2 separate regions of the Homo sapiens genome follow, and region 1 is linked to region 2. The links come from fine-mapping of genetic effects on gene expression. A gene starts in region 2. The other region holds a variant in brackets. All regions are shown on one strand. Distances are from middle to middle.

Region 1 (3,027 bases), 120 kb before region 2:
TATCATATGGCCCAGCAATTATATTTTTAAGTATTTACTCCTGAATGTTTATAGCAGTTTTATTCATAATTACCAAAAACTGGAAACAACCAAAATGTCTACCAACTATAGAATGGACAAACGACTCTTTGTACATGTATATCATATAATACTTAGTAAAAAAAAAGAATGCATGAAACACAACAGCACAGACGGATCTCCAAAGCATTGAGCTAAATAAGAAGAAAACGAAAGGGTTCATACTACATGATTTCCTTATATAACATTCTGAAAAAGACAAAACAATAAGAAAAGAATTCAGTTCAGTGGTTGCCAGGGATCGGGGCTGGGAGGATGTAACTGAGTAGCTTAGGTTCAAAATGCATTTTGAGACTTTTTTTTCTTCCTTTTCTTCCTTTTAGCCTTGAAACATACCTTAATACTCTTTGTTTCCCTGCCTTCCCACCAGACACTCTTGTGCACTGGTAGTTTATCTAATTATGTGCCCAGAAGTTGCAGGGGCTAATCTTGAGATAAACCAGGCATGGAAACCCAGGTGTGAAATTCTAGAGATTACCTCAGAGCAGTTAGTCAACAGCCTCACCATTGTTGAGATGATGCCAGCCTGCACTCCAAGTGGACCATGACTCAGGATAACCAGTGGAACAAGACACACAGACCTCGTACCCAGCACCATTCCTGCATGCCTTCCATTCCAAGTTCCCCTCTTTAAACCCCTGTCCACGGCCTAAAGTTTGAAATAGTCTGTTAAGAGCACGAGTCTGGACATTCCCCATCTGCTAGCGTTTGAATAAAAGCTGTTTCCCTTTGGTCACACCTCATTTCTCATACTTTGACTTCTAACAGTGAGCAGTTGAACTTGAGTCAGTTACAGGAGGAGGAAATTGACTGCAAAGAAATACGAGAAAACTTTGGTGAGATGGAAATATTTTATATCTTGGTTGTGGTTGAGGTTACATAGCTGTTTATATTGATCAAAACTCTAGAACAATATATCTCAAACGAGTGGATTTTACTGCATGTAAATTATACCTCAGTAAACCTAACTTTAAAATTCTAAGATACAGCTCTCGCAATATTTGGAAGGCCAATTTGCAGTCTTAAATGAACCTATAAAAACCAAGGAGCTTTTAAAAAAATGAATTATGATTTAACTCAAGAGTTTGAAGAATAACAAGTAGAAGAATGGAAACAAATGTAAGAGCAAAAGTTAATGAAATGAAAAATGGGAGAAGATCAACAAAAATAAAGGTTATTTTTACTAGTCTTTCAAAAAACTAATAAACATGTAATAAGAGAGATGGGACAGAAAGAGATTATACAAACAAGCAATATTAGGAATAAAAACATGATTATCTTAGATAAAGTAGAAAATGCTATAAGTAGCTTTATGTCAATGGAGGCTAAGACTAGTTGCAGGAAGAATAAGAAATAGGATATTGGTGTGATTGCAGATT[A/T]TCTGTCTCCCACAAAACACTAATCAATTACAAAGAAGAAAATTATGACTTTACAGTGAAGAAACTTGGCAGACACCAATATGACAGGTGATGACCAATGTTACCAGTGGTGGGAACAGTCAACCGCATATGTCCGTACTATGGCTGATACTCTTACAAGGGCATAGTTTCATTTCCATGATATTCCTGCCATGAATGCATGACCTGAGTGTGATCATAAGGAAACATCCAGCTCAAGGATCACTCTACAAAAGGTAAGGCCTGTACTCTTTCAAAGACTAAGGAGCTTTTTGAGATTGGAGAAAACTGAAGAGACTTGATAACTGTATTAGTCCATTTTCACGCTGCTGATAAAGACATACCCGAGACTGGGAAGAAAAAGAGTTTTAATTGGACTTACAGTTCCACAGGTTTAACTCTGTGCACAAACTAGTCAGTCCACTGAAAAGGATAACAGACAGGTGAGTTTGTGTCCTTTGATTGCTTAGGATCTGTTGCTAATTTGCTGAACTGAAGCTGCAAGAGCCTTGTGTTTTTGAGCATCTAGTGGGAAAAGTCTTTACCTCTGGTTGTGTGAGTTTGAGATATATTCCTACCTCAGCGGGGGTGGAGGGGGAGGGTATAAGTAAAATAAATTAGAAGACTCTTTAAAGAGTACCGTTATGATTGTTTTGGAGCAATGTCACCACTCTCTCCTCAGGGATTTTAGGCAATGTCTGGAGACATTTTGGGCTGTTACAATTTGGGGGTGCTTTTGGCATCTAATGGGTAGAGATTTGGTGTGCTGCCACACAGCTCACAATGCTCAGGACCGCCCTGCATGACAAAACAATTATCTGGCTTAAAATGACAATCGTTTTAGAGAAACTGAAAAGCACTTATATAAATCTAATATTCTCAACATTTCCTCAACATAAATTGAATGTCTAATGCTTTAAATGTGATAGCCTGCTTAAAAAAAAAAAGTCCTTCTCACAGAAGCTGCTAGCTCAAAAGCACTTTAAAAAAAAGCACTTAGAAAAAAAAAAAAAAACAAGAAATCAAGTTCATGCAATTAAACTAGACTGATAATTTGGGTTTAAAAAATAACTGTATCAGGCCGTGTGTAGTGGCTCATGCCTGTACTCTCAGCACTTTGGGGACTGAGTTGGGTGGGTCTCTTGAGGCCAGGAGTTCAAGACCAGCCTGGCCAGCATGGTGACACCCCGTCTCTACTAAAAAAAAAAAACAAAAAAACAAAAAAACATTAGCTGGGTGTGGTGGCACATGCCTTTAATTCCAGCTACTACTGGGGAGGCTGAAGCACGAGAAATGCTTGAACCTGGGAGACAGAGTTTGCAGTGAGCCAAGATTGCACCACTGCAGTCCAGCCTGAGAGACAGAGTGAGACTGTTTCCAGGAAAAAAAAAAAAAAAAAAAAAAACACCAAAAAAGTCGTATATTTTTCTGATTATATCAGTGTGAAGAAAAAATACAAGTATACAAGTTTTATTCTTTTTAAAAATATGGATTGTTTACATAAAGGTAATTTTGTTTTTGTTCCTTTTTTTTCAGGTTCAGGAATACATGT
Region 2 (2,728 bases):
TGTCACTGTTGATGTTGAATATAGTTAATAGAAAAGCAAAAATAAAAAATAAAAAAGGTCTAATTTTGAGGCACTCTTTTGTCTCTGCTCAGGTCCACCGTCTTCCTTGCTAATGTTTACGTTTATTATTAATTTTTCCATTTATTTATTTACTTTTACCACAATTAGGGGACAGAGAATGAAACCTAAACTTTTTATTGCTTCTGTAAAGAGTGAATATAAATGTAAGATTTTTTTTTTTTGAGACGGAGTTTTGCTCTTGTTGCCCAGGCTGCAGTTCAGTGGCGCAATCTCGGCTCACTGCAACCTCTGCCTCCCAGGTTCAAGCAATTCTGCTGTCTCAGCCTCCCAAGTAGCTGGGATTACAGGCCCGCGCCACCTCTCCTGGCTAATTTTTTGTATTTAGTAGAGACGGAGTTTCACCATGTAGGTCAGGCTGGTCTCGAACTCCTGACCTCAGGTGATCCACCCGCTTCGGCCTCCCAAATTGCTGGGATTACAGGCGTTGAGCCCCGGCGCCCGGCCACCAAATCCTTTTTCAAAACAACTCCCTTCTTTGACACAGTGCAATTTAAATAAGTATACAATTAACAAAGTACGTTTTTCTTGTTCAAAACCATCACTGAACAGTTTGCAACAGTAGGGTATGAATGCATACAATCTCGATGGTCTTTACACCTTCAGAGGCTATTCGGACTTAAGGAAACGTGCATTTACAAGTGTAAATGTAAAAGCTCAGTAGTTGCCTTGTAAAGTGCTTTTCGGGGTTGTGGGGTTGGGGGTGGTAGGAGTAGGTGGTGCCTCAAATTATACTAGCGAATACCAACATTCCCAAACATCTAGCCCTCTGCCTAAACTCACCCGGTTGCGGTCTGTCATTTTCGCTCTTCTTTGTTAATTTTTTCGGCAAAGTCAGTTTTCATGCAGCAGATGGCAAGAAAGCCGGTGAACGCCTAGGGACGTGGCCTTTTAACCGCACCCAATTAAAGCAGCAAACAGAAGATGAATAGCTGGGTGGATCAGTATGTGTAAACCTATCCGTTTAATCCGGGGAGCTGTTTTCCCGGGTGAAACCACGAATTCTTTCTGGAGGTTGCAACTCGTAACCATAGCAACTGGAAGTGGTCGCCGGCTCCCGGATGTTGTGGGGATCTGCGGCCGCCTGGCCCAGCTTCCCGCAGCCGCCCGGCGGCGGCCTGCGCTCCACTTCGGGAGTGGTAGTTCTTCTCTTCACCGCTGCCGGGCAGGAGGCGCAGGCGGGACTACGCGTCACGGCATGCACTGCGGCGCCCAGCCGGTCACCGCCTGCCGGCTGCAGACGCCTGCGAGCAGGTTGTTTTTATAAGAGGCGTCATTGGCGCCCGAGCTGTGACCGCCGCCACTGGGGCAGCCAGCACAATCGGGCGGAGGTGGCGCTGCCCCTTCAGGTACTGTACTAGGCGGGCTTAGACCCCGGGAGGGGGTTTGTGCCGACTGTCTGAGTCCCTGGCCGACACGCTCGGCTCAGTAGAGGAGCAGTGGCGGGGTCCGCCTCCTAGGCTGGGGCTGCTCGGGCGGGGACTTGACGCCTGGTGTCAGCGGCCGCACGGGCGACCTCCTCGGGCCGTGCGCGAGTGCACAGCTCCGGAGGCCCGAGCCGACCCTGGGGCGTCCGGTCCGGTGGTCTTGCAGCCTCCAAACCCCGAGTGCTATACCGAACTGCGCGCCAAGGGTGGGAGAGCTGACGGCCTGGGCCACCCTTCTTCCTTCACTGGGCAGGCTTTGAGGTGCTTGTCGGTCTGGACTGATGAAAATCCATATGGTAAGATGTTATGTGCGTCACCCTGCCGGGTTTAATGCCAGCCTGTCTTTTGATGACATTTGAGCCCCCGTGATGTCAGGAATAGAAAGATTAAATATTAAATAATGCCCGGAGACTTCCGCTAGCACGCCAGCCTGATGATGATCAAATACCTCTCCATATCCTTCTCCAGTTCCAGTGGCCTCCTTTAGCTTTGGTCTCCCTAATCGATTTGTCCTCATTAGCAGCTGTCCCATGCAGTGCCTTGTACGCGTTGTTTATGTTTAGCACTATTGGGAGCGCCAAGTAAGGTATTTTATTGAGTGGTGAAGTTTGCACTGTTCTGCTCTACTTTTATTGAAAAACACAGTTGGGCATTCTTGTAGTTAGAATAGCTAACTATATAGTACTATGAATTTTAGATTTGTCTCCTCCAATCTACAGGATAGTGCTTGAAATATCGCTATTACTGCATCGTATCTTTTAAGATTAGAATCATATTGGGTCCCACACGTCTCAGGGGATATTTATCACACACATCCAGTGTGAATGGTTTACTTTTATTTTCTGAGTTCAGGTCATATAGCAGAAGATGGAGATGGTGAGGGTATTATTTTAATTCATATTTTTTTTTTTTTTGAGAGAGGGTTTCGCTCTTGTTGCCCAGGCTGGAGTGCAGTGGCGCGATCTCGGCTCACTGCAACCTCTGCCTTCCAGTTTCAAACGATTCTCCTGCCTCAGCCTCCCGAGTATCTGGGATTACAGGCGCCCGCCACCACGCCCAGCTAAATTTTGTATTTTTAGTAGAGACGGCGGGGCGGGGGGGGGGGTCTCAACGTGTCGGCCAGGCTGGTCTTGGACTCCTGACCTCGTGATCCGCCCACTTCGGCCTCCCAGAGTGCTGGGATTACAGGCGTGACCCACCGCGCGGGCGTTAATTCATAATTT

Which allele goes with the higher level. Positions count from the first base shown, and alleles are read on the strand shown. Sizes are in standard deviations (SD) of each study's normalised expression.
In carriers of allele T in region 1, the expression in fibroblasts of the gene that starts at base 1,289 in region 2 tends to be lower than with A alone (moderate effect, 0.48 SD a copy in GTEx).

What was found. PIP is the estimated chance that this variant, and not a neighbour inherited with it, causes the effect.
Region 1: its variant is the best candidate, but not a certain one, in a credible set for the expression of CCPG1 in fibroblasts (GTEx, PIP 0.61).

What each region holds. Positions count from the first base shown.
Region 1 is chr15:55,528,722-55,531,748 of GRCh38, reverse strand. LOC124903496 reads left to right here and starts at 821. Exons shown (of 2, transcript XM_047433411.1): 1 at 821-914. The variant A/T (reference allele first, on the strand shown) is at 1,458.
Region 2 is chr15:55,406,920-55,409,647 of GRCh38, reverse strand. It overlaps CCPG1 (cell cycle progression 1), which reads left to right and starts at 1,289. Exons shown (of 9, transcript NM_001204450.2): 1 at 1,289-1,427. PIERCE2 (piercer of microtubule wall 2) reads right to left here and starts at 1,153. Exons shown (of 2, transcript NM_001198784.2): 1 at 862-1,153. The coding sequence starts at 879. The region is part of intron 8 of DNAAF4-CCPG1 (DNAAF4-CCPG1 readthrough (NMD candidate)); the gene reads left to right. RefSeq lists enhancers at 910-1,109, 1,160-1,429, 1,790-2,069.